Homo sapiens: one gene and its partners. The protein of the gene in region 3 purifies or fractionates together with the protein of the main gene of each other region. This does not show direct contact. Each region holds a gene or a part of one and is shown on either strand. Other genes may lie near its edges. The genes, in order: CCDC6, MAP7 and PPP4R1.

Region 1 (7,511 bases), on a different chromosome or scaffold from region 3:
TCAGGCAAAGTTTTAGATGTTACTGGCTGCCAAAGCTCCAGACACATAAATCATATGTGTTTTGTTTTTTTTTTTTTCGAGACTGAATTTCACATTTGTTGCCCAGGCTGGAGTGCAGTGACGTGTTCTCGGCTCACTGCAACCTCCACCTCCTGGGTTCAAGCAATTGTCCTGCCTCAGCCTCCCGAGTAGCTGGGATTACAGGCATGTGCCACCATGCCCAGCTAATTTTGTATTTTTAGTAGAGATGGGGTTTCACCATGTTGGTCAGGCTGGTCTCAAACTCCTGACCTCAGGTGATCCGCCTGCTTCAGCCTCCCAAATTGCTGGGATTACAGGCATGAGCCACTGCCCCCAGCCTGATATTCTTACTTCTCAAATGATTTACTTTAGCTGATGACTTATTTCTTTAGACTGTCATCTGTATTAATGGCTTTGGTTCCTGTGAAGCAATAATGAGTGAATAAAAACAGGAGCATAGGGATGAGATATGTAATTAATCTTGTAGTCATGATCTCTTGACAAGTTGAGATGTTGCATGTGCAAGGCTAGTTTAATGTTAAAAAGTGTAAAATATTGAAAAAACATGTTGTAGAAATAGAGTGGCTGGGCCGGGCATGGTGGCTCATGCCTGTAATCCCCCTACTTTGGGAGGCTGAGGTGGGTGGATCACCTGAGGTCAGGAGTTTCAGACAAGCCTGGCCAACATGGTGAAACCTGGTCTCTACTGAAAATACAAAAAACTAGCTGGGTGTGGTGGCTGGTGCCTGTAGTCCCAGCTACTCGGGAGGCTGAGGCAGGAGAATCGCTTGAACCCAGGAGGTGGAGGTTGCAGTGAGCAGAGATTGTGCCATTGCACTCCAGCCTGGGTGATAGAGCGAAATTTGGTCTTCAAAAAGAAAAAAGAAAAAAAAAAAAAAGAAATAGAGTGGCTAAAGACAGCAATAGTATAAAGTGTGGATATGGTTGTTTGGGCCCAGGATCTCTTGTCTAATTGACACTGAGAAGATAAAATGAGAAGGAAATTCTGTTGGTGACTCAGTGGTATCTAATCAGTGTGTAACCACTCCAAAATGGGGCTGTCTTTTGTTTTACTAGTTCAGTGGTTCCAAACTGGAGGTAATTTTGCTGCCCAGGGGATATTTGGCAATGTCTGAAGACATTTTTTGGCTGGCATACTACTGGAATCTACTAGGTAAAGGCTAGGGAGGCTGCTAAACATCCTACAATGCACAGGACAGCTCCCTACAACAAAAAATTACCCAGTCTCAAATGTCAGTGTTCAGAAATGCCTTGCTAGACCTAGACAAAGCTTCTAAATTAAAGGTGTAATTAGATAAAGAAACTATCAACTACTTTTCAAGAAATGATAGCCCTAGGCTGGGCACAGTGGCTCTCGCCGGTCATCCCAACACTTTGGGAATCCAAGGCAGGAGGATCACTTGAGGCCAGGAGTTCAAAGCCAGGAATTCAAGACGAGACTGGTCAACATAGAGAGACCTAGCCTCTTAAAAAAAAAAAAGAAGGAGGAGAAATGATAGGGCTACATGGACACATTCTTCTATATTTCTATCCAACTTCTGACACTGTGACATCCCGCTCATACTTGGCTCACCCTAATTTTTTTCAAAACTGTAATGGTGGGTCCTGCAACAACTAAATCCATTTAGAATTTGAATAAAATTACTCAGATCTGACATTAATGTAACTGGATATGTACAGCAATTTGTTTATATATATTAAAAATTAACAAAATTGCTCTATGATTTATGCCATTATTATTTTATTTTATTGTTGTAAACACTAAAGTTCCAAGGCCATAGAGTAAGTGATTTGCAAAAATGGCACTAGACAAATAAAAATCTTGATGTTGCGCCTTGCAGTTAGACTACAAGGTATTCTTTTCCTTTGTTCATGTGTTTTTGCAGCTTAAATTGAGGGCAAAGCTAAATTTCATTATTTCTCCAAAGGAGGTGATTACCTAAATCTGTCCCTTCTTCCTCCAGGCAGCACATACTACCATTTGTTCTTGTGATTCATTTCCCCTAGAAAGCTGAGAAGGAATTTTATAATGATATTATTGGTTTTGTAACTGGTGTTTCCATTGTAATGCTATTACGGAACCAGTGTTGTGATAAATGATCTGTTTATAAGGGAAATCACTTTTACAAGAAGTAGAAAATTAGACACGCTTCTGCTTTGCAATAACAATAAAAACCGCGGTGAAAAAATATTCTCCAGTTTATTCCCATCTGTATCAGCAGGGAAGCTTTAGAAGATGGCTTTCTCCCTAAAGTCTTCTAACCACGATTACTACCTACAAGTCCCATGTCAAAATGCAAATTTCCTCCAAATTCCACTGAAGGCCACTACATTCTTAAGCTTAACCATGACTTGGGCCCTTTAAGAAAACCAGGCGCTTCAAACTCCACCCCTCTGCTGACTTGAAGCAGTGTGAGTCCGCCTTTCCAAGGCGGTTAGTTTTGTGGTGACGCTAAGAGAGAGTTAATTTGCCCCCTGCTCTGCCTGGAAGGAATGTTCCTGTTGCAATAAGCTCTAAAAGTGGAAGCTTTAAGATAATATGGAATAGGGAGCAATAGAAACTTGTGAGGTATGGCAGCCAGACCTACTCTTAAGATTCGATCACAGTGCTGAATAAAGGGGAAAGAATGTTGTTAAATCTGTTTCCCCCTGTGGTGCTTCTCCCTGCTAGCTTTACTCTTCCATTTCAACCCTCAAGTGAGCTTTCCAGAATCCGTTTCCAATTTAACTCATTGTCTCATGTACTAGATCCCAAAAAAGTGAGAGAACTAAGTTTCAGTGCAAATTAAACTGGATCACTTGTAACAGAATGATTTAGATTGCCTATATGTTTCTCAAGAGCAAAGCCAAGCATTTCCTCCCTCCTGCTATACAAACAGTGACAGAGTTCAGAAGCCCTCCAGCACTAAGCTAAAAAATACCTGGGAGAAACTGGGGTTTAGTTGCTGTTGGCATTTAAGCTGTTTGCTAAAAGCAGCCATCTTGGTGAAAGATGATGTCATTTGGAACACTTGGTGTTTTCGAGTTTATTCTGAGGTGCCAGTTTCCAAGAGCCATTGAATCACCGTTTAATCATGAGATCAAATTTAGGTTTAAAGATAATGAGGGAGTGGGAATAAGAATCATTCTTCTTTCTTCCTAACACTTTAGAAATCTTTCAGAAAGTTCAACCCAACAGAAAAAAAAATTACACTTTTTTTTCTATTTTCTATTACCATGTGTTTGTTGTAATGTTAACTAAGCGTGGGTAATAAAACTAGTCTGGTCAGTTTCACTTTCCAATTTTTATACATAAGTGAAAGCTGTTTTGTGTCAACAGGGCAAAGTGTTTAGAATCATCTCACCTGCTGGGCCAATTTCCTGCAAGCCTTTCTTTGGGAAGAGGAAGGGGGAATAAAAGTTTTTGATTTTTAATTTCTTAAACTGCAAAGCTAGAACCATGAATTAGACCGCATTACAGTAATTACTGTTTTATTTTTACATGCTAAAGTTTTCTAGGAGTGAGCAAGAGGATAGCAAAGACGGGTGATGTTGCACTCCCACTCAATCATTACTATTTGTATAGCATAATGTTATGTCCGCAGTTACTTTGGAAAATTGGCACTTAAAGAGGTGTTTCAATCTTCTACTAAAAGTGTTTCGCCTTCCTTTTTTTTTTTCTTCATTAGGTAAATGTTACTGTCTTAATCCTACTACGAGACATGTGCTGGAAATGTTTGCAAAATGCAAAGAGAAAAAGAAAAAAACAGTTGCACCTTGTTTAAACAATTGAGCGCAGTGTGGTTTATGAGGTTATTAAAGGAGATGTGTGTCTCTCCTGCAAATTCTTACTTAACAAGGTTAACCTGTGGCTGCTGTTGTTTCATCCTCCTCGGCCTCTTGTAGAGGAACTTTGTTCTCTTAGGTTTATCCAAGCCTTCCTAGTCAAAAACACCTTGCTTTTGAGAATATAAAACTGCGTGTATGTGTGAAACAGATAGAGGGAGACACGCGCACACACAGTCGGCGGAAGATGGGGCCACAACACGGTAGAGGATGGGTGCCGGAGCCCGGCTGACCTTTCCACGTGTCCCCGGCACCTGCGAGGCTGGTGGGGCATCAGGTTTCCTTTTTCTCGGGGCGGGCGCGAGCCCGGAAGAGGCTGGGCGGCCGTGGGCTTAGATCAGGGGGCTCGGAGGCCCTCCCTTGGAACACGTGTGGCTGGCGAGCTGGTGGTGCGGGGGCAGTCCTTGGCTTTCCCGCACCCGCAGTGCCTGCGCGTTCCCAGCCCGCCCGTGGTCACCAGACGGCGGCGGGCGGGTCCCGGAGCTTTCAGCCAGCTTTGCTGGGCGGCCTAGGGAGCGCGCCCAGCCCGGCTGGAGCGAGCCCCAGTGCAATACTGCCCAAGCCCGGGCGGGGTCTCTGTTCTCTGGCAGAGGAGGTCCCTTGGCAGCGGGAAGCGCCCTCTCTTTCTCTCGCCGCCGCTCCGAGTCTGCGCCCTGGTGCCAGGCGCTCAGCTCGGCGCTCCCCTGTGCTCGCCCGGCGCCCACTCATTCGCAGCCCGGCCTTCGTCGCCGCCGCCTCCCTGCTGCTCCTCCTCCTTTCCCCAGCCCGCCGCGGCCATGGCGGACAGCGCCAGCGAGAGCGACACGGACGGGGCGGGGGGCAACAGCAGCAGCTCGGCCGCCATGCAGTCGTCCTGCTCGTCGACCTCGGGCGGCGGCGGTGGCGGCGGGGGAGGCGGCGGCGGTGGGAAGTCGGGGGGCATTGTCATCTCGCCGTTCCGCCTGGAGGAGCTCACCAACCGCCTGGCCTCGCTGCAGCAAGAGAACAAGGTGCTGAAGATAGAGCTGGAGACCTACAAACTGAAGTGCAAGGCACTGCAGGAGGAGAACCGCGACCTGCGCAAAGCCAGCGTGACCATCGTGAGTGCCCCCCGGGGACGCGCCGCAGCGCCGACCTCCGCCCGCCCCGGGAGGGGCTGCACCCGAATCCAGCCACCCCCCAAGTCTTCCCCAGATTCCCGGGGACCCTCTGAGAGCACACTCCCTGCGGGGACCTGCTGGCTTCCGGGAGGAGAGGGAGGTATCCCTTCGGGGCCACGCGGGTCTGTCCTCCTCGGGGGTCTGAGGACCCTTGCGCGGTGCGGGGGAAGGCTACTGTGGCAACCATTCATGGTCCCTTTTAGCCTCTGGAGAGGAGGCCCCTCCGGGGCTGGGCTGGAGGCTGGCGGCGTGGCTGGGGGGCGGGGTAGGACTTTTTTCAGCCCTAGCATGTTTGAGGGGTGCGTCCAGAATCTGGGGAACCCCAGTCCTGGAAGAGGGAGGAAGCTGGGATCTCTTACTGGGTCCTGGCTCGGAGTGTGGGGGTTCGCAGCTGGACTGGGCACTAAGCTGGCATCTGGACTGCGCTAGCTGGATCGCCCGGGGAGGGGGCGGGAGAGAGTGGCCGGGAATCCGGGAAGTGGAGTTTTCTGGCCGGGATCGAGAGGGAAGGGCGGGTACGGCGCTAATGCTCCCACCTCTGTTGGAAGCTCTTTGCTTTGGGTTGGGAGGGTGGACGGTTTACAGCGAGGAGAGTGCAGCATCCACGCCTGGACAGGGCTGGGGCCGAAACCAGGGGAAGGGTAGTGACTGTGACTCCCTGGCTGAGCCAGAGGTACGTGTGTTTGCTTCATTCGTGGAGTGGTTAGAAGTATCTTGCTTCTGAGTCTAGATACTGGAGAACAGGCCATCTGTTCTGTTTCTACCTGTCCCCTGGAGGCTGCCCAGAAACGGGTAAGCTTGGGTCTGTAGGTCTCTCTCCTGGTGTGGCAGGCGTTTAGAAAGGCCCCTATAGCAGTGATGAGGCGAAACGTAACTAGAAAAAGTACACTGTGTACTCTCACCTATCATCCCTGCCAGCTCACCACATCATTAACATGAAGGATCCCCACACAGACAACTGTATTCAAATCAAAAGTTCCCCAGCCAGAAGCAGAGAAGATGATGTCAAGAAATCAAGGGGGATAAATGGCCATAGCTGCTGCAAAATAGCGGATTAGGCTGAACTTTGAAATGAAGAAAAAGGGATGAATTTGGGGATAGAGGGTCACACCTTGGAAATGGAGCAAGTTTAGGATGCCCCTTGTGCCAGGAAATGCCTTCGGTGGAGGAGGCTGTGTATATGTGTGCGCACGCGTGTGTACACCCCCAGTGCTGGCTCATACATGAGAACTAGATGGCATTCTTAATTTGTGTAGAAAGCAAGTTGCAAGTTAAGTGTGATCAGTAGCCTAAATAGCAGTTGATTGTAAAAAGAAACTTTTCATGCTCAAATCCAATTTTGGAGAATGGAATTGGAGCAACTTTCATGTGAGATGGTAAAGTTCTTGAAGTGCCCTTTTGGTAGGAAGGTGGGGGGCGGGGAATTTGCAGAGGCAGCCACTTCCAAGCCTCCTATGCAGCTTTCTTCGCTGACAGAGATGTCTTTGCTGAGTGGGGGTTAAGAAGAGAGGGAAGTTGTTGGAGGCAGTTTAAGGTTTGAGTTAGTAAATGAGAGGGTTAGTCTCTTGGAGACTGTGAGCCATGGAAAGTAGTAAGACTTGCATGAAGCAAAATAGCCTTTTGCATGCAGTGGGCAATTCAGGCTGGTTTTGTTTGGGAGGGAGGAATGAGGGATGCAGAGACTATGAAAGGGTTATCTGTTTGACACTTAGACCGTATTATAACTAGGTTTGTAAATTGTGCTTAAACATGTTGGCTTTGCAGGAACAAATGTGTTCATTCCCGGTGTTTAAGATCAGAGGCCTTCTGAGTACTTGGCTAGAAGAGCGTATAAGGTGGTGGCTTGCTTTCTTAGCACTTACCCTTAACTACACTGACATCCAACCGAATATACTTTGTGAAATGTCGTGTGGTGTTAATGAGTAAAGTTAACATTGTTTTAGATGACACTGCACAAGTACCAGAAGCCTCTCAGTTCTTCTTTAATTTCTGACTAATATATTCAGGGAGACACATAAAAAAGTGCTTGTGGTTCGCCTGGTTTCCTAATACTTGGCAGTTGTTACTAAGGAGCTGAATGATAAATGCAGAAAACAGATTCCTTCAAGATTTTGCAGGTTTTGTTAACTGACCTAGGATCCAGATTCTGTGGTGGTACGTTTGACCTCTCAGGTATGTAATGCGGGAGGAGAAATTTATGTGACTCCATGAAATGGGCCTGTGAATGTAGAGTCCATTGAACAACACTTAAGTAGTTTATGTCAAGGTTAAGCTGTACAATCCCTGACATCGCTGACTTAAGCATTACCCTTGCTAGTGGCAGGCTAGGAAGTTTCTGATAATTAAGTGAAGGCCTTGTTAGATTTTTCACTATTTTAGTTAATTTGAAGGGAAGATGGTACCATAATTCTGGTAATTGCCTTCCTGGCTCTTTTTAGTTCTAATTATGATATTAACGTTCATGTCCTTGGGCACTAAAGGTGATTGTGGCCTTCTTTTTCCTTG
Region 2 (7,163 bases), on a different chromosome or scaffold from region 3:
TGAACTTCAAGCTCCAGGTGGTTTTACATTTCTAAGTAGCATCTGGTTACCCTGGCAGAGGTGAAAACCAGTGGGTCTTCTGGAAAAAATTCTGACTTCTATCAAGCACACAGGCTACGCCAGGGGTCCTTAAACTCCAGTATGCACAGGAATAGTGTTGCCAGGTAATTTTTTACTTAGCGTTGCTAAGTAAAAAACTATTTTTAAGCAATGCGAAGTTAAAATATTATACTTAAGGAAAGGTATTAAACTTAACCTTAGAGTAAAATTTCCAAGTCTCCAATAAAAGAAGAAAAGGAAAACAAAAAAAGCTTCATCAAAACAGTGCGGGAGAAAAAGAGAGAGCACCCAGACCACAGGTGAGTTTGCTCTTACCAGGGCCAACTTCTGGTTCAGCAGGTGTCCGCTCTTCAACTGTGGCTTCTTCTACCTTCACTAAAGGTGCTCTGCCCTTTAGTGAGGGCTCATTGGCAACTTTCTGAGGTTCCTTCTCAGGATCTTTCTTCTCAGGCTCCACTTTGACTTCCCTCTTGACAGGGCGGATGTTGCCGGGGGATGGGGGCCGGACCTGAGCAGGAGCAGCTTTGACTGAGCCGGGTGGCAAGGAGGATGTCGGTCTGGGTGTGCCAGGCAAATGAGGAAGAGACTTGGACGGAAGCCTGGGCCACAAACAAACAAGGCAGACAAAAGGGGACACATGAGAACAGGCTTGCCAGAACCTAGAACACGACTCGATGGAAGAGAATGCAGATATTTAGCTCCGTGTATTTGTTTTTTATGTGGTAGATACAGAAATAGAGTTGCTTTAGGGAACCATTCCAATTTCTCTTTTTTCTTTCCTTTTGGGAAGAATGCTATTCCCTAAGTCAAAGCCAAACAGCATGAGAAGAACAGTTCACTTTCAGAGGAGAGAGCTACTAATTCTCTAACATGAAACAACCCAGCCAGCCACTTATATTTCACTTACCAAAGTCGGGAGCGAGCTGGTTGTCTTGCTTTGGGATTAGATGGAGATACAGCCCTTCGGGTGCCAGATGTGAGGAAGAGTACATTTTCTCTCTCTCTTTCTTTTTTATAGCTCTAAGTTCAGAGAAACTCAATAGTTAGATTTTTCCACAAGCGAGGCAAACACACTCACAATACTCAACAGTGGAGCTAGAAACCATTGAATGACTTTTAAGAAATTTTCTTAGCTATGTCACATATACCCATTCCATCTCAACAAAAGGCCCTTGTTAGCTTAACACTGAACAGTATAACTGAATTAACACAATGTGACACTAATAAGGTGATTCCGGATGTGTTGGAGTCATATTTGTCAAAAAGCATATGTGTGTACATACTTTTAGAAAGCACCTATACTTTGTGTCTAAAATTAATTACCTGAAGCAAAACGTCCCATTCTGGTTTATCCCCCACAAATGTCAAATGTTACTTTCATTTTTTAAAAAATTTTAATTAAAACACATCTTTTTCTTTTTAATTCTTCAACATTTTCCCCCCAAACACACTATATCTCAGTCTTTAAAAAAATTATATGCCTGCTATATTAGACATAAACTCATTTTTTTCTTTTATATTGATGTTGTATAATGGAATCAAGTCCTTCTTCACCTACTGTCCTCTTGCAGCAATAGATAACTGATACAATAGGTGATTTTGAAGAAAAGTCAGGTTTAAAGTGAGGAATTTCAGCTATTTATTTTTTTGCTCTTCCTTACCAGGAATAAACTGAAATCTGAAGGTGGGCCAAAACATCACCCCTCCCTGATTGCCAACTAGGAATTCAGCTTGAGAGATGACACTTTCCTAAGTCAAAATGGGCAAAGGGAAGCCCAGAGAAGTGTTCCACTACTCTAAAGTCAATGAAGACCAAAACAAACAAACAAAAATTGTACAGAGCAAAACAGACCCATTCCAAGTATCTGAAACCTGACAATGCCCTCAGGTGGGAGGGGCACGTGCTGGAGGCACCTATGTGAACACCTGTCAGGAGGGCAGACTGCAAGCGTACATGGGAAGGGGCAGAGTATTATCTAGCCCCAGGTCACATGAACTAGTACTGTACCTTTTCTTCTCTCCTTTTCTGCCTGGCTCAAGCATCGACTCCTCTTTTCCTTCCTTTCCCTTTTGTTCCCCTCAGTGTCCCTTTTAATTGCTTCCCTCCATTTTCCTTAGCAGCATCCTAGTTGATGGTCTGGGTTATCAGAGGAGCAAAAACATTTAAGTGTCAAATAATGCTCATTGTCTCCCTGGGATTTCTAAACAGAAAAAATGAAGAAAGAGGCAGAGAAGAGCTTCACAAGGTGTGTGCCAGCTCTGCATCATTTCCAGCTGCTCAACCACCATTTCTCCCATTTTAGGTCCCCAAAAGTAGGAGGTGGGGCCTCACAGAGCTGCTGTGGGCTTTGGGTATCAAAAGCTGCAGCCACCATATGGGGCACTCCTGGCTGGTGTACAGGGTGGCATGCCCAGGTCTTTTCCCAGGGGAGACTGGGGTTAAGTACCTCAAGTAGCCCTTCTTTTTTTTTCTTTTTCTCAAAACATTTTGATTTGGCTGAAATCAGATCAATGGGTGATGTAAATGGGAAAAAGACTCAAGAGGGACAATTTTTGATGTGGCGTGGGGGTGGTTGGGGATTATTATTATCTGTGCCTTGATAATACAGGGATCAGGGAATGAACCTATATAAAGGTATATAATCCTAGAATTACAGTACCTTTGAGCCAATTCTTTCTTTTTTAAAAGTTATCTCCTTTAATCACCTAGGGGTAGGTGAGCAGAGGAGGAATGGTTTGGAAAAACACTCGATACTTAACACCCTCCCAACCAGGGAGTTTTTTTTTTTCTTTCTTTTTTAAACCTTTCAGTCCTTTTGTTACTCTTATATCCAACCACCCATTTGGGTACCACACATGTAAAGGCACTCCCAATTCTCATCCTGATCTGAGTTAATAGCCCACCATCTATACAATCATCTTTCCTATTAATAGTTTCCACAATGCTGAGGGGGAACACATACTCAGCAAGTCAATGGTCTGGGCAACATATCAGCAGGAAAAGGACTTTAATTTTATAATTAAGGTAGGTTTAGAATACAGTATAAATATCCTCCAACAGAGACGATTCACTGACAGATACTTTAACGCAGTGCTGTTTAATAGAACTTTCTGATATGATGAAGATGTTCTAAATTTAGCCACTAACCACATTTGCCTATTTGAATTTAAATCTAAATTAATTCAAATTAAGTAAAATAGAAAAGGAAATTTGAAAAACAACTCTATTTCCTATAGCATCCAAAGGAATAAAGTACTTAGGAATGAACTTAACAAAGGAGGCTAAAGATCTGCATACTGAAAACTAGAAGATAGTGCTGAAAGAAATTAAAGGCAACACAAATAAATGGAAGGAAGTCCTGTGTGCAGGGATTAGAAGATTTAATACTGTTAGGATGTCACTACTACCAAAAGGGATCCACAGATTCCATGCATTCCCTATTGAAATCCCAATATAATTTTTTATTTTTGCAGAAATATAAAAATTCAACCCAAAATTCACAGAAAATTTCAAAGGATCCTGAAGAACCAAAATAATCTTGAAAAAGAACAAAGTTGGAATTCTTACATTTCCTGATTTCACAACATATTACAGGTTGAGTATCCCTTATCCAAAATGATTGGGATTACAGTGTGCAGATTTCAGATTCTGGAATACTTGCATTAACACTTACTGCTTTAGCAGCCTTAATCCATATAACTGGAAATGTGAAATGCTCCAATGAGCATCTCCTTTGAGTGTCATGTTGGTATTCAAAAAGTTTCACATTTTGGAGCATTCTGTATTTTTGAATTAGAGATACTCAATTGGTGAAAAGCTACAGTGATCAGTACTGTGTGGTAATGGTATCAAGACAGATATAGATATATGGGGCTGGGCACTACGACTCATGTCTGCAATCCCAGCATTTGGGGAGGCCGAGATGGGTGGATCGCTTGAGGTCAGGAGTTCAAGACCAGCCTGGCCTACATGGCGAAACCCTCTCTCTACTAAAAATACAAAAATTAGATGGGCGTGGTAGCACATGCCTGTATTCCCAGCTACTCAGAAGGCTGGACATGAGAATTGCTTGAGCCTGGGAGGCAGAGGTTGCAGTGAGCTGAGATTGTGCCATTGTACTCCAGCATGGGTGACAGAGTGAGACTGTCTCAAAAAAAAAAAAGATATATAGACCAATGGAATAGAATCCAGAGCCCAGAAACAAACCCTTGTGTATATGGTCAAAAGCTAACACCACTCAATGAAACAAGGACATTCTCTTCAACAAATGATGCAGGGAAAACTGGATATCCAAATGCAAAAGAATGAAGTTGGACTCTTACCTTCTAAAATATACAAAAGTTAACTCAAAATGGATTAAAGACTTAAATGTAAGACTTAACACTATAAAACCTCTAGAAGAAAACATAAGTGAAAAGCTTCATGACACTGTGTTTGGTACTGATTTCTTGGATATAACACTAAAAGCGTAGGCAATAAAGTGTCAATAAATTAACAATAAACAAATGGGACAACATCAAACTTAAACACTTCTATATATCAAAGGAAACAATCAGTAGAGTAAAAAGGCAACCTATGGAATAGAAGAAAGTATCTGTAAGTCATATATTTAATAAGGGGTTACTACTAGAATATATAAATAACTCTACAATTCAACAAAAACAAAATAACCCCATTAAAAAGTGAGCAAAGACTGGAATTGCCATTTTTCTAACGATGACACATGAAAAGCCAACAAGCATATGAAAATATGTTCACCATCACTGATCATTAAAGAAATGCAAACCAAAACTACAAGACATCACCTCACATTCCTTAAGGTGGCTGTTATCAAAAAACAAGATCACGATTGTTGGCGAGAATGTGGAGATACAGAAATCTTTGTGCACTGTTAGTGGGAATGTAAAATGGTACAGCTGCTGTGGAAAATGGCATGGAGGCTCCTCAAAAAATTGAAAATAGGATTACTATATGATCCAGCAATCCCTATATATCAAGTGAAATTGAAAGAACAATCTCTAGAGATATCTATATTCCCATGTTCATAGCAGCGTTATTCACAATAGCCACGAGGTGAAAGCAACCCAAATGTTCACCAACACATGAACTGATAAACAAAATGTGGTATACAAATATAATGGAATATAATTCAGCCCTAAAAAGGAAGGAAATTCTGACATATGCTATAATAAGAATGAACCTTGAGGACATTATGCTAAGTGAAATAAGCCAGGCACAAAAATTCAAACACTGCATGATTTCACTTTTATGTGGTCTATAAAGTAGCTAAATTCATAGGAACAGAAATTAAAACAGTGGCTGCCAGGGCCTGGGGGGAGGGGGAAATGGGGAGTTGTTTAATGGGTATAGAGTTTGAGTTTTGCAGGACTTAAAAAGTTCTGGACATTGGTTGCACTTCAATATGAATATACTTAACACTGCTGAACTTTAGAATGATTAAAATGGTAAATTTTACGTTACATGCTTTTTTTTTTTTTTAACACAACTAAATATTTTTTAAAAACTTAAAATTTAGCTTGTCAGTTTCAGTAGCCACTTTCCAAGTGCTCACTGTGGCCAGTCACTACTGAATTCCACAGTGCAGCTCCAGGGTATAAATGACTCTGAGTCGTTTTCTGTTAGTATTTGCCTAAATACTTGGTTGTAAAGAGGTAAAAAGACAGCTATGTGATTAAATAGAGAAAGAGGAAGGTAATAAAAACAAAACAAAACAAGGCTCTGGATCATGTGATGACAAATCTCTCATTTAACCTGTCAGCCACAGGTGGCCCTCAACCTTCTCTCAAGGAGTGTTAATTTTTGTTTTTACCCAGAACAAGATAGTTTTTCCATGGTAAATGCTCTTTTCCCCTGCCCAGTGAGTACCCAACTTTGGGGCCAACCTGTTCTGTTTAACTACGGCTTTCTGTCTACAGCTAAGGAGGATCTCTGAAACACCAACACTCTAATAAATTAAAACTTTCCAGACATCAAAGATTGTTTCACCTGTGGCTTAGAGGGTTGGAGGCCTGACTCAATCATGAATCAAACACTGATTCCAGAAAGGCCGATGGAGCTTGAAAGAAAAACAGGCTGTAGGCAAAGCCATCAAGCTCTCACAACCCTGAATTATCCTTTAAGCAAAATCCTTTTAAGTGTCCATCAGGTTTATAAATCTGAATTGCTCTGGGAAGTTACGATTTTAAGAAACTGTTTCAGCCTTTCATCAAAAGGGTCATACTGTTATCCTGGAGAGAGGCAATGAGATCTTCTAGTTCACTGGTGAGTCCTTTAAGACTAAAGTACAATGTCTAAAGACCACAGAACAAGGTTTATATCTTTCAACTGACACCAAATAAACACAAGATTTAAAACAAAGAAGAAGATTCCTGGAGACATACAAATTACCTCATTGCATTTATAGCATGGTGAAAATTAACATTACCTCAGCCCGTAATAATAAGTACAAATTATATTTTTCACTTACAAAATCAGAATTTATAGCACAGCCTAACAGCCTTTTACGAATTAGTGATATAGCAAATGACTAATGTTTTCAAAATACTTTTTTGACTAAATTTTAAGATCCCTTGACAGGGCCTTGACAGGGATTAGCCAAGCAGGATAAAAATTCTTTATCTTGCTTTTGAGTGAACCACATTTAGAGTTCAGCCAGCTTCTGGATATGGTTGAAATAAAATGCCAAGGCAGCAGTCCAAGCCCACTTCCCCTTCAAAGGCCATTTGGTTTTCCTACTTTCAAAAATGAAAGTATTCTGGCATTGTACTTATGTGTATGGACGCTCCAGGAGGGTAGGGCGTCCACTCATACATGCTTGAACAAAGAACAGCTTTCATCTTCAAATTCAAATGTTTAGGGAGAGCAAAATCCCCAAGTGAAGAGGAAGTGAGGGGACACTACTGCCCAGCTAGCCAGATTCATGATCAATGGGAAAGATGGGATGGTGGATGTCACGGTCTCCCCCTCTTACGCCCACACCACAGCTCAGGGTCATGTACAGTCTGCACAGGAACAGCACTGGCTCCCAGACTTGCCCAGCTGCTCCCAACAGCTACTCACCGCTGTGCCATGAATGATCCTC
Region 3 (7,163 bases):
CAGTTCACCTTTTAATAAATCGGTTGTCTGTACATGCATGCGTCTGTTTCTGGGCTTTATTCCCCTGCCCCGCCCCATTAGTCTATTTGCCTAAGCGGGGCTTTGAAGAAAGAAAAGTTGCTGATTTCATTTTTAACTGAAACCATAACTTGTGTCCTCCTTTTGCTTCAAAAATATAAGCAATTGTCAGTGTTAACTTAGAAAATTCAGCATCCATGAGAAAAGCAGAGGCCTGTATGTTTACTTTTTTAAAAATTAGGTTTTTCTTCAAAACAGAAACACTCTATTTTGTTCATATCTGGCCAACTTCACATGGTACAACAGTATAATAGAAATTCCAGATATTGGTTTGTTGATAAGATTCTGAGCTTTGTAAAATACAGTATTATCTACTTAAAGGTATGTTAATTTCTCTGTTGATATCTGAAATCCTAGTAGACACATTCATACATATTTACTTTAATGTAGCTTTATTAATGCATAATAATAATGGGTATCAGAGTTCTAGTTAGGTCCGATACAATGACTTGTTACTGATAATCCATCATGTCTGTCTGTATTTCAGTCACTTGCATGTCTTCTATGAATTGCCTACTTGTATCCTTATTTTCTTTCTTATTATTTATTTGAACAGTGTGTTCACTTCCTAATACTCTGTTATACATGAATTTGCTCCCAGGCTGTTTTCCCTTTTAACTGAGTATTGGTATCTGTTATCTATAATAAAGTTTTTTTGTTTGTTTGTTTTTGAGACAGAGTCTTGCTCTGTTGCCCAGGGTGGAGTGCAGTGGCGCGATCTTGGCTCACTGCAACCTCCACCTCCCGTGTTCAAGTGATTCTACTGTCTCAGCCTCTGGAGTAGCTGGGATTACAGGCATGCACCACCACACCTGGCTCATTTTTGTATTTTTAGTAGAGACAGGGTTCACCATGTTGGCCAGGCTGGTCTGGAACTCCTGACCTCAAGTGATCTGCCCGCCTTGGCCTCTCAAAGTGCTGGGATTACAGGCACACCCAGCCTATAATAAAGTTTTTATAATGTATAATTAGTTGGTCTTACGGTTGATTTTTGGATTTTGTCTTCCCACCTCAAGATTGAACATTTAATATTATCTTTTAGTACTTTTGATCTTTATGATGTGCAGTAGGAACTTTTGTTCCGTGCTAACTAGCTGATTTTCCTACTGTTGCTTCTTAGACATTTCATCTTTTTGAAGCCCAGAAATTTGAAATGCCATATTTCTCACATTTAAATTTGCCATATGCACTTGGGTCTTTTCAGGTGTTTAAAAAATATTTGTCATCTTTAATTTTCATTTACCCATTTTTAGTCTTAGTTAAGTCTAATTATATATCTTTCATTTATTGACTAAGTTGAGATTAGGAACTAGTTTTTATGACTTGTCCTAGTAGGTTCTTAAATAGTGGAATTTATGGATAATACTATGTATGTGTCAGAGTATTGATGTAAATATCAGATAGGATATTTAACCCCTAGCACAGTGTGGCACAGTGTAGGTGATGAATAAATTTATTTATTGTTAAGAAATGGTTAGATACTCAGTGCATACTGTGAACAACAGAAGCTTGGATTGAAGATAAGGTCCTCCTTTCACTCATGGGATTGATCTGTGTATGATTCTGAAAAGGAATGCAGAATTAAAGGATGTTGTCTCAAGTCCTTTATATTTTGAAGATGAAAGTCCATAGCCTTCCTAAGTACCCTCAAGAACAGATAAAGGTTTTGTTGCTGCAGGAGAACATGTTTGCTCACATTGCCGTTATTTCAATAGAACCAACTGTGAGAGCGGAGCTGATGGAACAGGTGCCTCACATCGCACTGTTTTGTCAAGAAAACCGGCCTTCAATACCATATGCTTTTTCAAAATTCTTACTACCTATTGTGGTTAGATACCTTGCAGATCAGAATAATCAGGTAAGAGTACCATTTATATGTTCTTAAAAGAAATTTACGTAGTGTAATATATGGAGAATAGCCGAGCCTAAGTGTTCTCTTTGGAATGTTTTACTGTTTTTCAAAAATGAATATTTATCTTAGACAAGATGTGTTTAGAGTCTGACAAATCTAGTAGATCCCTTTAATGCCATTATGGACAATGCCTAGTAACTGCACTCTCACTTGGTAACCTCCTAGCGGTCCCTTAAAAGGTTTGTTACTTTGTGAGGCATCTTTTACCAGGATGGCTCTGTCCACTTCCTCTGTTACAGCACAATCTACGAAGTTCTGTAGTCTTTGTAATAGTTGAAGAAAATAAACACAAATATTTATTTGCGGAGTTTTGCCAGTTATGGGTCCCTTTGAGATGAGAAATCTTTGTTTATAAAAATCAAGTGATAGAATTTTGTCATGTTGCATATGTACTTTCTTTGTGTTGTTATTTTTCTCCTAGGTGAGGAAAACAAGTCAGGCAGCTTTGCTGGCTCTGTTGGAGCAGGAGCTCATTGAACGATTTGATGTGGAGACCAAAGTGTGCCCTGTCCTCATAGAGCTGACAGCCCCAGATAGCAATGATGATGTGAAAACAGAAGCTGTGGCTGTAAGTCAAATGCCATTTTTCCACTTATGCAAAATGTGGCTGATAAGAGGTGCTTATTAAAAGTCAGGCCGGGGTTAGGCACGGTGGCTCATGCCTGTAATTCCAGCACTTTGGGAGGCCGAGGTGGGTGGATCACTTGAGGTCAGGAGTTGGAGACCAGCCTGGGCAATATGGTGACACCTGGCTCTGCCAAAAAAATACAAAAATTAGCCAGGCATGGTGGTGTGCGCCTGTAGTCCCTGTTACTTGGGAGGCTGAGGCAGGAGAATCACTTGAACCTGGGAGGAGGTGGAGGTTGTAGTGAGCCAAGATCAGGCCACTGCACTTCAGCCTGGGCGACAGAGCAAGACTCCGCCTCAAGGAAAAAAAAAAAAATTAGGCTGGGCTGGGTGCAGTGGCTCATGCCTGTAATCCCAGCACTTTGGGAGGCCAAGGTGGGAGGATCACTTGAGACCAGGGGTTTGAGATCAGCCTGGCCAACATGGCAAAACCCCATCTCTACTAAAAATACAAAAAAAATTAGCCAGGTGTGGTGGCACATGCTTGTAATCCCAGCTACTCTGGAGGCTGAGGCACGAGAATCATTTGAACCTGGGAGACAGAGGTTACAGTGAGCCGAGGTCATTCCACTGCATTCCAGCCAGGTTGACAGAACAAGACTCTGTCTTAAAAAAACAAAACAAAAAAAAAAAAAGAAAGAAAGAAAGAAAGAAAAGGCTGCTTTCTGTTAAAGTTGCCACAAATCATTAAATTTGAAATACAATCAGGGCTAGAAAGGGACATAAAGGCTTACAAAGGAAAGTGTACCTTCTGCACACAATACGAAAAAATACATAATTGTAAATTATTATGTCAAAGTGGAAAACTGAAATGGTTATTTTATCAGTGCAGTTAAAATTTTAAAAACCCTGGACTGAACGAAGAAACACTTGAACCCCTTCAGTAGGTATTGAACACTTTTCTAGGCACTGTGTAAGCACAGTGGAAATAAAATAATACTTTGCTCCTGCTCTGACAGGTATGGTCTTTGTGGGAAGGATGGTCAGGCAAGTACATTTCCCAGGATATATGACATCAGTGATGGTTATCAGAAGAATATACAGATTGTTAAGTCATTACGCACATCATAAAGTCAAATGTAATAGGAAGTTTCTGGGTTTTTTTTTGACATGGTTTGCAAATATTCTGATTACTTGAAGGCCATGATAGGGCATGAATTAGTATAGAGTAGTATCTGTTGTGATTCACATCTGGTTCCTGAGTTCGGATAGTAGTAATTCTCATGGTAAATTAGAAAAGTGATAAATTCGTCTGGAAATTTATTCATATCTATTTGGATAGTAAGAGTTCACTCCTTAAGCCTAAAATAATATGGTTGCGTCTTTGTTGATATTTTTTAATAATCACACTATATTTAGTGCTTCTGGATCATCAGTAATGGGATGAATTAGATGATCTCTCTAGTCTCTTTCCCTTGAAGAATTTCTTGAATCTATTATTTTTAGATACTCAGTTACCAGTTAATAATAAATTTACTTTTTCAGTAATGTTTTTACTGAAGTGAACCTTACATGACATAAAATCATTTTAGTGTTAGTGGCATTTAATATGTTCACAAAGTTGTATAACCACCACTTCTTCCTAGTTCCAAAACATCATTATTTCTTTTTTCACTTTAGGATTTTTGCAATGAAGGAAATCAGTTTTGGGCTTGGCCTAATTTTTGGTTTATATTGAGCCGTTTAACTTGCTGTATTATAATTCTCGATGCAATGTAAAATTAGTAAAACATTACAATAAAAAATTTAAAAACTATATCCAGTGCTAGTAGGAGTCTTATGATTCTCTTACAGTTGTGTTTGTTTTTTGGTCATGTTTTATATTCCATGGCTCCCATATTTTCTCTATCTTAATAGATAGAGAAATAATAATTATTTCTTAATAAAAATTAATTTCTTAATAAAAATAATTCATTTTTAAATAAATTTAGTTATGCTACATCAGTGATATACAGCATAACTTTGGATTGTTAACTAGAGCATGGAGATGCTTATTCAAAAAACAAAACTGGTTTTGGGATTTAGGAGATGTAGGCGTTATCTCTAGTTCTGATGATGGTGGGATTTTCATGGGGATAGTGTTGAATCTGTAGATCAATTTGGAGACAATTGCCAGTTTCACAGTCTATGAACATGGTAGATCTATTTATTTAGGTCTTTGATTTATATCTTTAATCTTTTGTAGTTTTCAGCAGAAAGTTCTTGTGTGTATTTTGTTCGATTTCATATTTTTTAAAAGTACTTCTGTGAGTGATACTGTTCTTAAATGTTTCCAGTTCATTGTTCATTGCTAATTTGTAGAAATACAATAGATTTTTATATTCTAATTTATAGCCTACAACCTTCCTAAACATACTTATTCTGGTGGCTTCTTTGTAGATTCCTTCTGATTTTCTGTGTAGACAACCATGTCGTATTTGAATAGAGAGAATTTTCTTTCTTTGCAATCTGTATCTCTTTTACTTCTTTATTTTGTCCTGTTTGTACAGTCTAGCAATTGATACAATTGATAAATGACAACAGGCTATCCCATTTCTTTCTGTATTAACTGTGGGAACAATGTATCTAAATAGAGGGCCAGTTTTCAAATAAAGTTAATCCTCACTTTGCCTCCTATTGTGTTAACTGAAACATGCCTATATCAGAACTGTGTTCATGCTTTCCCTGGAACTGAAGCTTTGCAAAACCAGGACATGGTTCTGATATGTATGAGCTTTAGTTCACAGGGTGCTTTGCAAGGCGAGGACTGAATTTTTTCTTAGCAATACAGATATGCTAAATCTAGATCTTTCCTGGGGATAGTTTTCCCTTTGAACAGTCACCAATTTTTTAAATTGGGAAAATGTAGGTTTTTGTTTGTTTGTTTGTTTTGCTTTTAAAATTACCAGGCAAAATGATGAAGTAGTAGTAAGATGGAAACTGTGGACAAAAATGAAATTGTTAGGATTTTCTGTGGGTTTACTGGGCATGCAGTATTTATTGGTTGTTTTTATTGATTGTGGTTAATATCTGTCTTTGTTTCCTACTTAGATAAATAAGATGAAATTAATAATTGGCTATGAATGTTTTCTGTCATGTATATAGTATAATGATGCCATATCATATTTTATGTTTCCTCAAATTATATACTTTTATTATTTAATTTAACTGAAAGAGGCTTACTTGATATTTTCAGTGTGTGTTTGTTCTTACTTATTTTAGATAATGTGCAAAATGGCTCCCATGGTTGGGAAGGATATTACAGAGCGTCTTATCCTCCCTAGGTTTTGTGAGATGTGCTGCGATTGCAGAATGTTTCACGTTCGAAAGGTATTTTTTTGTCGTTTTTTTTCTGCTGTTTAAGAACATAGTTCTAGTGGTTAATGTACTGATACATGATATTTAAAAGATTATCTTAGAAGAACCTTATGTGTAATATTTTGAAATGTCAATGATGCTTTTGTTGTCAGGTCTGTGCTGCCAATTTTGGAGATATTTGCAGTGTAGTTGGCCAGCAAGCTACTGAAGAAATGTTGGTAAGTATTGCAGATATAAAGGAGTAAACAGTGTGTGTTACAAAGTAGTACATAAAGTTTGAAATGCACACATTTACTCCAAAGTTTTATTAACACAATTCCATGAATATAAACCAGAAAGATAATTTTGAATTTAGGAGTTTAAATATCTGTAATCTGGGCATTTGAATTATCTTTTTGATATTTATTAAAAATATGGATATGTTTCAGAACCATTGATCTGTTTTCACCTCTTCCATTTCTGTTAAGCAAATCAATTCTTACTTATTCAATTGAACCTTTAATTTTATTGCAACCCTCAAGAATGTTGATGACATATTAAATCTATAGCAAGTTAGTTTTAAATAGTACACAAGATGCCTATACTTGATGTATAAGTCACCATATCTAAAGAGTTTCTGAAGCCATCTCTTATGCAAAATAATTAAGTTCAGGGGCAAGCTCTTGTAAAACATTTAAGCTATGATTGTTGGGAGTGCTTTTGCATAGCCAGAAATATTGCATAAGACAATCCAGTATGCTTTTGCATAGCCAGAAATCCGACGGACCAAATTATCAGCACTTTTTATTAATTTATCAGTGATCTTTCATGTTGGGTAGGGTTTTGATTATCACTTTTGTGAAATAATACATTTCTGTCCGTTTTAAAGCAAACATAATTTTGACTCATAAGAAATAACTTAAAATTTAAGATATATTATTATATGTTATATATTTATAATTTAAGATACATTATTTTTTATACTTTTAGGAATAGACAGTAAATTAGATGTGATTTATTGAAAATTGTTGAGTATAAATACTAATAGATCCTACTTTTTAAGACAATCCAACATTTAAAACACTGAGGCTGGGCGTGGTGGCTCACACCTGTAATCCTAGCACTTTGGGAGGCCAAGGCAGGTGGATCACCTGAGGTCAGGAGTTCGAGACCAGCCTGGCCAACATGGTGAACCCTCATTTCTACTAAAAATACAAAAATTAGCTGGGCGTGGTGGCACACGTCTGTAATCCCAGCTACTTGGGAGGCT

The links.
Region 1: the proteins of PPP4R1 (region 3) and CCDC6 purify together in Homo sapiens (affinity purification with mass spectrometry; 3 studies listed by BioGRID and IntAct, with this or other methods). This does not show direct contact.
Region 2: the proteins of PPP4R1 (region 3) and MAP7 purify together in Homo sapiens (affinity purification with mass spectrometry; 2 studies listed by BioGRID and IntAct, with this or other methods). This does not show direct contact.

Annotation. Positions count from the first base shown.
Region 1 is NC_000010.11:59,903,557-59,911,067, reverse strand, and holds the start of CCDC6 (coiled-coil domain-containing protein 6), read left to right. Parts: upstream 1-4,511; 5' UTR 4,512-4,643; coding exon 4,644-4,946; intron 4,947-7,511.
Region 2 is NC_000006.12:136,365,360-136,372,522, forward strand, and holds part of MAP7 (ensconsin), read right to left. Parts: coding exon 7,142-7,163; intron 1,081-7,141; coding exon 968-1,080; intron 660-967; coding exon 376-659; intron 1-375. UniProt on the Homo sapiens protein: Microtubule-stabilizing protein that may play an important role during reorganization of microtubules during polarization and differentiation of epithelial cells. Associates with microtubules in a dynamic manner.
Region 3 is NC_000018.10:9,583,484-9,590,646, reverse strand, and holds part of PPP4R1 (serine/threonine-protein phosphatase 4 regulatory subunit 1), read left to right. Parts: intron 1-1,793; coding exon 1,794-1,936; intron 1,937-2,411; coding exon 2,412-2,558; intron 2,559-5,818; coding exon 5,819-5,926; intron 5,927-6,066; coding exon 6,067-6,132; intron 6,133-7,163. UniProt on the Homo sapiens protein: Regulatory subunit of serine/threonine-protein phosphatase 4. May play a role in regulation of cell division in renal glomeruli. The PPP4C-PPP4R1 PP4 complex may play a role in dephosphorylation and regulation of HDAC3.